Regions from separate parts of the Homo sapiens genome. Here region 2 is linked to region 1. Evidence: fine-mapped expression QTL. Tissue or cell type: prefrontal cortex. Region 1 holds a variant in brackets; the other region holds the start of a gene. All regions are shown on one strand. Distances are between the middles of the regions.

What was found. PIP is the estimated chance that this variant, and not a neighbour inherited with it, causes the effect.
Region 2: it holds the start of PAQR8, and the variant in region 1 is fine-mapped to the expression of PAQR8 in prefrontal cortex (GTEx, PIP 0.93).

The regions. Positions count from the first base shown.
Region 1 is chr6:52,419,013-52,424,218 of GRCh38, forward strand. EFHC1 (EF-hand domain containing 1) reads left to right here and starts at 1,330. Exons shown (of 11, transcript NM_018100.4): 1 at 1,330-1,461; 2 at 4,934-5,155. The coding sequence starts at 1,399. It overlaps LOC124901331 (a long non-coding RNA gene), which reads right to left and starts at 1,969. Exons shown (of 2, transcript XR_007059611.1): 1 at 1,197-1,969. RefSeq lists an enhancer at 1,299-1,890. The variant A/C (reference allele first, on the strand shown) is at 2,022.
Region 2 is chr6:52,360,119-52,365,247 of GRCh38, forward strand. PAQR8 (progestin and adipoQ receptor family member 8) reads left to right here and starts at 2,033. Exons shown (of 2, transcript NM_133367.5): 1 at 2,033-2,131. RefSeq lists silencers at 1,437-1,622, 1,796-2,285.

The sequences.
Region 1 (5,206 bases):
GAATCCAAATCTCTCGGCACGTGGGTTTTGATTACTTTTTATTTTTAAGCTCCTCAGCAATGATGGATAGCTTTCTCCCCCCCCCCCCAAAAAAAATGTTTCAGGAATAGGATTATGTTTCTTTTAAGAAAAAATAATTTAAGCAAGTTTTGTAAAAAGCATCAAAGGCTATACCTATGATGCTGACAATATTTCACCTCACTTATCTGCTTCTTTCCCAAGACTTAGTCTTTCTCTTTGAAGGAGCTGTGTTCCTCCTAGTGGTTCTGATCTTTTTCATTGCAGCTGCAGGTACAAACGAGGGATTGAGGTGACCACCCTTCAACCTGCAGCTCTTCAGTCAACAAAAATCAAGTACCTATCAGAGTGCACCCTGCCCTGCAGCACATATTCAAGGCTTTCCCTACAAAAACAAAGGTGTTTAACCGAAGGGATTGATGGTAGAATAAAGAGAGCTGGGCGCGGTGGCTCATGCCTGTAATCCCAGCACTTTGGGAGGCGAGGTGGGCGGATCGCTTGACCCCAGGAATTCGAGACCAGCTTGGGCAACATAGTGGGACACTATCTCTACGGAAGGAGGGAAGTAGGGAAGGAAGGAAGGAAGCAAGGAGGGAAGGAGGGACGGAGGGAAGGAGGGAAGGAAGGAAGGAAAAAGAAAAGAAAGGAAAGAAAGAAAGGAAAGAAAGAAAGAGAAAGATTGATTTTAAAAAAGAGTTAAAAGGGGAAAAATACAATGTGGCAGTGGGAGAATTAAGGATGAGATGATTGCATTAGTTCATTGACCATCCCTGAGCAACAGAAACACAATCATGGGTAATCCTCGGCCCCTGCCTACAAGAAGCATGGGTCTAGTTTAGTAGCACTGCCAACTGGACCGACCATTTACACTTCTGTGTGAAATGGGGCAGAGGGGGGAGAAAAGAGTGCCTGAGCTCACAGCGTTGGCGGGGCGCAGTGAGGTCCGCCAGGACTAGGTGGAAGGAGAGAAGGAACGTCCCTCTCTGCAACTCATCTAAGGGCCTGCTCGGACCCCGGATCTCACAGCGAGAACTACCGCCTCGCTACACCCGCCTTTCCCCGCGCCACCCAACAGCTCCCACGTCTCATCCTCCGGGAGCGGGGCGGGGCGAAGCGGAAGAGGAGGGGCCGACACAACCACGCCCACTAGCCGCGCTCCAAGGCCGCGGCCCACTTACCGCGAGAACGCGGAGTCCTGCGGATGGCGCACGCGCAAACCTCCTGTGATGCCTGCGCCTCCTGGCCCCGCCTTCCGCTCGTGGGAGTTCCGGATGTTTAGCGTTACCATGGATCCTGGAGGTGCCCGCGAACACTGCTTGTCGCCTGGGCAACCGGAGAGGACGAAGCAGGACCTAGGTGGCGGCGGTGGTACCGGCTGCAATGGTGTCCAATCCCGTGCATGGCTTGCCCTTTCTTCCGGGCACGTCCTTTAAGGACTCTACGGTGAGCAGTTATCTGCCAGACTCCCACCTGTCCCCACCTTCCAGCAGCCCAGGAGGTTTCCCCGCTCAGTGCACCTCCATTCCCCTCCACTCAAGTCTGTCTTCTCTCCAAACACGTCTTCTGTCCTGACCCTGTTCTTTATTCTGGGCCGAACTTCTGCCGTTCTTCCCTAGCCATCCTCATCCCCTCTCTCCGATCCTTTGCCCTCCGCCTCATCCCTCTCTAGTTTTTTCCCACTCCATCTTGGCAGTGTGTTGGCGCCTTCATTCTCATCCCGTTAGCCGCGTTCTTTCTTACGGCCCTGCTCCTCCAAGCCCCTGCCTCTTGTCCCTTTAGATCACTGTTTCCCCCACCCTACTCCCAACCTATCTCTGGGCCCTCTCCCTAGCTCGTTCTCTCACATCATAACCTGTCTCCGTCCATCGCCGCCCTTAAAACCCCCCGCCACTATGCACCTTCAACCTCATTCCCACAGGTCCGTCATTCCCGCCCCACCTCTTCCTCTTCTGAATCCTGTACCCGGTAGTATCTCCCACTCCCAGCTCCATTTCCTGTTTTGT[A/C]TGTATATCGATTCCGCTCCTCTTCTTTCCGCCAGGTCTTTTTCCTTTCTTCTTTATGCTTGCATCCAACCCCATTCTTTTTTCTCCATCTTCTACATTTTCCACAATTTAGTCCCATCCTCTCCCCATTCCTTTCTTTCTCCGTTGCGGGTTTTCCCCAAAACTTGCTCACCTTCCTCCCAAAGCATCTTTCCCTGCTTTGTAAGAGATATTCCTTTCCAGTTCCCTCAAGAATTGATTAGTTGCTGTTTATTCTTCCCCGGCCCTGTTCTTTTTATTCTAACGTTTTTGTAAAAAGATTCCTGTTTAGATTTTGTTTTGCTCCTTCCCCAACCTTGTGTTTTTATTTGCATTTTCTAGACAAAATTTTTTAAAAAGTAGCAGCAGCTTGGATTCTTTTTTTTTTTTAAACTCTTGCCACAGTTTAGCTCTTAAAATTATTTGGTTTGTTTTAATTCTGACAGGGCTACTGAAATGTATGTGCTGAAAAATCAATAATGAGATTCAGTAGACTGATCATCATAGATGAGCTAACAGTAGTTTATGTTTATATAGTTTAATACTTTAAACTCTTGCCTTCCTCTCCAGCTTCACAAAGTTAAAATATTTTGTCAATTTATTTTCTTTGGAAGAATCAATTTAGAATGAAATCGAAAGTTTGGTGAGAGAATTTGTATTCTGAATCTCTGTAATTATCCCTGCATTAAGACACAACATCATAGATTTTTAGTTTCAGTGGACTTTTCAGTTTTATGTAATTTAGAAAATGTTGTAGGCACTTGCCTGCCCTATACAGGATGAGCTTAAGCTTTTGGTGTTGGTGAGTATAGACAGGGCTGAGTTGATACAGGGAATTACAGAGGTGTGGATGGAAGTGCAAAGCTCTAAAAACATATTGCTGTATTACAAGTAAGAAGAACTGTGCATTGGACATATTTCAGATTTTAAATACACTGGCCAAGTGTCAACCAATTTGCCCTATTTGAAATTTGAAAAGCATCGTCAGTATATCTTCAGCAGTGAAGGACTGAATATGTATTAATGTAATTCTAAAGACATGCAGATAAGAAGTTAAAAAATTTTTAAAGGGGAGTGGGAAAACGATTTTAAAAAAAGACACACAGAAGGTGAACCATAATGGACAAGAGGGGTGGAAAGGGCCGAGGTTGCCTTGCCTGGGGTGTCTGTGAGTTATGGCTGAATGATGGTAGAGACATTTGTCTAAAACAAAGAAATAAACTGAAGTCACTGATGTTGCTTCTGTCTTTGGTGGTGGAAGAAGAGCTTGAAGTTCCATAAATTACCCAATGAGGATGTCAACTCAGCGCATTTTGTTCTATGTCATGTTTACTATATACCTGGAGCAGTCCCTGTCAACTGACTTGTGACTCTGAATACATGACCTTTAAAAACAAATGTCATACATTTGTTTTTATGGGTTATATACAGTTTATAACCCTTTTAGCAAAAGAAGTTTATTCTGTTGTACCTTTCATGTTAGTACAGATCTTGAAAGATGGTAGGCTGGGCTCTAAAGCAATTAGGATGTAGAAAGTTTTTTTCATAAAAATATTTTTTATGATTAATCTTAAATTGTATCTATGTATATATTTGAATATTATAGATAAGTAATTGTGAAAGTATCCTCACAACAGAAAAAGGAAACCATTAACATAACCTCTAATTTGCCTTTCTACTCTTTTTTATTTAATCTTTTAAATAAAAATGTGTTCATTGTAAAAAATCAACATAATTTAGAAATGTATAATACAGAGGACCAAACCAGTCTCTTCATGCACATATTTCCATGCTTATAATTGCAGTACACATATAATTTTATATGTTGCTTTTTCAGGCTTATTAAATCATAAATATTTTCACCAGGTTGCCACGTGATCTCTAAAATCAATATTTTAATGACAGCACCATAATCCATTGAGTGAGTTTTCGATCATTTACTCATGTCTTCATATGACTGTCTTTTAGATTGTCTTCAACATTTACCATTGTAATGGGCAGCTTCAGGCATATAGTTCTTTCTCATAATTCTGAATCATATTCGTAAATAAATGGTCGGGGTAGAATTATTGAGTTCAAGACTTTAAATATATACCATCCAGTTGCTTTCCAAAGAGTTGTAAGAATGTATCACTGTCATTGTGACAAGAGGGACAGGTAAAAATAAATTCATTCCATGTAAAAATAAAATTCACAGAACCGTATCTTCTAGGTTCTACAGTTTTTACGGCCCCAGATATCAGATGAAAAACATGAGAAGACTAGTGAAAAACTTAAGAGTATAGATGAGATACTCTTTTAATCTCTCATGCAAGGTGAATTGGTAGTTAAATTGGGCATTACAGAGCACAGCTTTAAATTTTACTTTAAGCTTAGGTGGCTACTTCGCTCCTTGTTCTTGTTCAAGTGTTTTAACTTAAAATACAGAATCTTTTAATGTAGGTAAGCTTTTGTTTTGTTTTGTTTTTTTGAGACAGAGTCTCACTGTTGCCCAGGCTGGAGTGCAGTGGTTCAATCATAGCTTATTGCAGCTTGGACCTCCCAGGCTCAAGTGATCCTTCCACCTCAGCCGACTATAATAGGCACAAGCCACCACACCCAGCTAATTTTTTTTTTTTTTTTTTTTTTTTTTTAGTTTTTGTAGAGACAGCATCTTGTTGCCCAGGCTGGTCTCGAACTCTGGGGCTGAAGTGATTCTCCCTCTTCAGCCTCCCAGAGTTCTGGGATTATAGGCACGAGCCACCATGCCCAGCCTTAATGTTGGTAAGCTTCTTGATGTAAGTTTTGTGATGCTTATAAGCAAAGATTCAAGTTATATTTTTAAAAGTTAGTTTTTTTTTTACCTAACAAATATTTGTCTAATGTTATTAATGACACATTCTTTTCTTCTTCAGAAAACAGCCTTCCACAGAAGTCAGACGCTGAGCTACAGGAACGGCTATGCAATTGTTCGACGTCCAACAGTTGGGATAGGCGGAGACCGGCTCCAGTTCAACCAGCTGTCCCAGGCTGAGCTGGATGAGTTGGCCAGTAAGGCACCAGTCTTAACTTATGGCCAACCTAAACAAGCCCCACCTGCGGATTTTATTCCTGCGCATGTGGCCTTTGACAAAAAGGTATCATCTGGAATTTTAGGGTACCCCTTGAATTAGGGTCTGAGAGCCAAC
Region 2 (5,129 bases), 59 kb before region 1:
GTAGGCCATTACCTCACAGTAGAAAATAAAAGAAGCTAGCTTGAGACCAAGGTAGTTTTAAAAGGCATGAAGGATGAGAACCACCATTCTTATTTAGTGGCTCTGGACAGCGTCACTTGGAAACAGAACTGCCTCATGCACAGATAACAATGCCTGACACCCATTACACTTTACATGCACGTTCACATCTGCCTTTTGGATAAAGGGCAAGAAGAAAGGAACATTTACCATTGAGAAAGAATTAGAAGCCTTGTTAGTCTCCTTTTAAGACTTCTTCACATTCCACATGGATTAACTGTTAGGGAGAAAAACACTGCAAAAATAATCAGCAATGCATTTCGGAGGCTCATCAGCTCCCGGCTGACAGCTCACGTTAGTTGGATGAAGGCTGTGGATAGGCTTTTAGATGTGCTAACCTGTAATTTTGTTTCTAGAGTGGCCCAAAGTGGAAGGAGTTTTCACTCCCTCTCAATAAGCCCTCTTGTACGGTTGTGACCTCTGGCCTATCATAGGTTTTTGACGATAAAGGAGAGCCCGGGTTTTTGAGGTTAAGGGAGAGTTCCCTGACATCTTTGGGGTGAAGAAGAGATGGAGGGAGCAAAGCTGCCAAAGACCTCCTGTGACATTTCCACTAGTATCCACCTATAAGTAAGTGCTGGACTATGATTCCCTGGGGAGATCAGTGGCTCTAAAGACAGGCCCCTGGGCTCTTTCCTGGCTCTGACTCAGCTTCAAACCTGCCGTGCAACTGCTCAGAGTCTAAATGTCTTCATTTATGGAACTGAAATAATCCTGCTAAGATTACTTTCTTTGCTTCGTGATGTTTGCCTGAGAATAAGTAGCTGGGACTACAGGCGTGTGCCACCACGCCCATCTAATTTTTGTATTTTTTGCAGAGACAGGGTCTCACCTTGTTACCCAGGCTGGTCTCGAACTCCTGGGCTTAAGCAATCTGCCCACTTTGGCTTCCCAAAGTTCTGGGATTACAGGTGTGAACCATCACACTCGGCTAAAATGTTTTGAAAAATGGAAACATTGTACAAATGTGAGATGTTGTGCAACATGTCACTGAAACACGGTGGTATAAGAGAAGTTTTGGGAACCAGCAGACCAGAATTAGGCCTGAGAAAATCTTACAGTAAGCAGACCAGAATTAGGCCGTCTGAGAAAATCTTACAGTAAGCAGACCAGAATTAGGCCTGTCTGACAAAATCTTACAGTAAGCAGGCCATCTTCCCAGGCCTTCTCTTTTCTCCAGATAATGAAGAAGGCTTTTTAAAAGCAAAGCCAACTTGATTTGTTAATTGATCATCCAACTTCTTAACTGTCTTTTTCTCATGGTAAAATACCGAGAACATTGTGGGTGAGGAGCAAGTCGGGAGGTGGAACCCACCCCCGCACCCTGCCTCCAATAGATTGTATGTGTGGGTCGCTATTGCTGGGACCCACGAAGGCTGTGGATTGAGGACACAGGGTAGAAGTGGGATCTTCTGCAGGTCAGTGTCAGATGTGTCTGTGTGATGTAGTCATGGGAGAGGCGCGAGTCTTGGGCGGGTGTATCTTAGGGGTGTGGAAGTGTCTGCAAGGGCCTCCGTGGTATGTCATCACATTATTTATATCATGGGCATGACCCTGAACGTTCACCCGAGAGTGGTGAGAGAAAGGCCAGGATTTAAATCAGTCTTGACAGCGCAGATGAAGTTTGTTATTGTTTTCCGCCCTTCCCGAGGGACTTCGGAAATGGCCCCCTGAGAGGTGAATTCTTGGAAAGAATATGAGGGCGGTTAAGGCGTCTCTGTCTCAAACTCTCCGGATTTTTTGCAGCTACCAGGGACTGCGAGGGTCTGCGTCCTGGGTGGAAGGAAGCGGCGTCAGTCAACTTCCTCGCAGCGGCGGCAGCGGCGCGGGCTGCAGCGGAGCGCGCGGGTCTGCGCATCCCGCCCCCGGGTCGGGAAGGGGCGGAGCTGGGCGTCACCCGCCCCCGGCGGTCTCCTCCTCCCGGCCGCTCCCCCGAGCCGAGCCCGCCGCGGTCACAGCCACCCGCGGGAAGCTCGTGGCCGGGACCCCGAGGCGGGAGCGCGGGCTGGGCCGGGCTGGGCTACGCGCACGGGCTCGGCCGCCGCCCCTGCCGGTGAGTCCCGCCGCGGGAGGCGCGGAACGGGTCGAGTTGGGTATTGGGACCGCGAGGTCGGGGAGCCCCGGGGCCCGAGCTCGGGAGGCGGGGACGTCAGGATCGCGGCGTTGGGGAGTCCTCGCACCCCGAGCTCAGAGGGGAGGTCCAGAGTCGCAGCGTTGGGAACCTGAGGCCAGGGGCCGGAGTTTAGGGCCCCGATGTTGAGTCTCCGAATCCAAGCCCGGAAGGGGGGACGACGGGTTAGGATGCTGGGGAGCCCTGGAGCTCTGAACGGCTGTAGTGGGGTGGCCAGGACTGCGATGCTGGGGAGTCATGGAGCCTGAGCCTGGAGAGCTGGCGGGGGTGTGGGGACCGCGATGTTGGGAAGGCTGAGCCCGGAGGGCGGGAGATTCAGGACCAAGACGTGGGGGAGTCCGACAGGGCAGAACGAGGGGCGTCCTGTCCGCATTTGTGGGGCGCCCTCCGCAGGGCGGAGGGGAACGGAACCTGGGAGGGGAGTGCGGAGGAGAGGAAGCCCGGGGCGGTAGGGAGAGCCCGAGGAAGGGCAGCCCGAGGTAGGGGAACCCCGGAAAGAGTAGGGTGGGTCTAGGCATGTGCTTTCGCCGGGGAAAGATGGAGGGGGCTTCTCTGAGAGGGTGGGCGCGAGGAGCGGAGTTGTGATGGGAACCGCCGGCAGCTGGCTAATGGGCGGATGCTGGGGCTTGGCTGGATGGGAACGCCGCGGTGGGGTGTCGGAGGTGGCTGGTGGGGCTGGAACGCTGGGAACGTCTGTCTAGGCTATGAGAACGCAGCGCCCTCGGTGGAACAGGGTCGTAGATAACTCGAGAGGGAATCTAGTCTAGGGAGCAAGACCGGGCATCCCCAGACGGAGGCGGGTGGGGACCTCGCACTCAGCGCGCTTGGGGAATATTCGGAGCCTGGGTTTGGGGGCTGCTGCACCTTGCCGACCCGGTGCGGGGACCTGGAGGTAGCCGGGCACAGCAGCTTCCTGTGCAGCTGTGGGTGCTCCAGGCACTGGCAGACTAGTGGGAAGTCCAGGAGCCTTGGCAGGCTCATTGTCTTGACCTAAGTTGCATTCCATATTTCTTAGCTGGGTTAGAAATGATTTTGTCCAGGAACCCAATGAGAAGAGCCTGGGCTAAAAAAATTAGTTATGGAGTGAGATTTCAAATGTACAGGTAATACCTACCCGTGTGTGTGCGCGCCTTAGGGATAACTCATACAATACACTGTATGTGTGATTTTTAGACCCACGTGTGTACTACTTGTTCCAGTACTCTGAGAAGCTGTTTCTGGGTAAAAACGAGGAAAATCCACAACAAATACACACACCAAACAATGTCCACAAACGCACTGCATTCCAGTCGAGTTAAACATGAGAGTATTGTACAGTTTGGGAGTATTTGCTTGTCAGTGAAGACTCCTGTTACTGAAGTTAATAGGAGTTGCCTGCATGGAAGGTAGACTGCCCTTGACTGCCCTGTTAAGGTTATCCACAACGTGTACCCAGCCCTGAGCTGCTGCACCCTTGACCAGGTCAACTGGAAGGGAGCCAGACTGCTTAGGACCTCAGTGGATGAGTATCCAAGTGTGTATCTAAAAACAAAGGACCAAGGCATGGCTTTGTTTTTGTTTTTGTTTTTTATTTCTGCTGTTTGTCCTTGGGTGCGTGTCCTTCAATTATTAGTTAAATGTTGACTATCTTACATTAACCCATCTTGTATTGTTAATTATGTATGGTAATTATTTCAGTTATTTGGCGTAACAACCAATTCTGGAAGACCCAGAGTAGAGGAATCTTATTAAGTGGATATATCCATTGAAAGATATGTTTTTTTTTTTTTTTTTTTTGCGGGTGTGTGTATGCACCAGATTTCCTTCTGGTGCATATAGGTCCATCTTCTGACACACACTGAGATTTGAGCTTCATTGGATAAACAAGGATTATTTTGGCAACTAGCATTTGTTGGGTCTGTTTTTAATTCATGAAAAGGAAATCTTTAATAATTATGCAAGTTAACAGGATAGAAAGCGATTTATTCATTTTACAAGAATCATTTCAGGATAAGCATATTTCCATTAAGGGTGTGTGTATACCTTATTGAGTGGTCAGGACCTTGCATCAAAATCTGCACTATCATTCCTGCAGCAGTGTACTTATTCACTTGGACGTAACACTTGCTGATGCTTCCAATTCTTTATCCAAATGTTAAAATAAATATGCCAGTATTTATACATTCAAATCAGTATTTCTCCCCTTCAAAAGCCTGCTCTTGGCAAGCTGTGTACTAATTCTAGTGATGCTGTCACTACTGAGAATAATTTTGGAGCTCCTGCTTTGGAGTTGCCTTCCGAGTTTGCAACACATTTCCTGATTGCCTCAGTGGTGGCAAACCTTCCTCAGCTGGGAAACAGCCAGGCACTGTGCGGGGCCAACTTGGGCTTCCGAGGTGGGGAATCGAGGTTGTCAATAAGTATGCTCATTAAAGTAATGAAAATTCTCTTGAAAGACTGGCAGTTCTAAAAGGGGCATTTAGTAATGGCATGGAGTATGTATTTAGGATTGGAAGGAATTACAGTTGGTCCCTGAATAACACCGGGGTTAGGGGCTCCCATCATCTCCACAGTGGAAATTTTGAGTACAACATTTAACTCCTCAAAAACTTAACTACTTTGAAGCACAACCTTCATTTTGGTGTTTATGCTCTGGTATGTATGTAAAGTAATTGGTCCTGTCACTTTATTGTTATAGCTTATGGCTTATTGGGCTAGAAAAAGTAAGCCTTTCTTTGCCCCTCCTGATACTTGTTACTAGGCAGTCTCTGTCATTGTGGATTTTTACAGAAAGCAAAACAAAAATACAAAAGACTTGTTGTCTCACCAAAAAAAAAAAGGTACCCAGAAAGCCATTTGCCCCAGCTGTAGGTAATGCCTGGTGCTTGATTTTTGATGTGAAAGGATCCACAGAAGTAAAGGGAAGAGAATGATTTCTGAA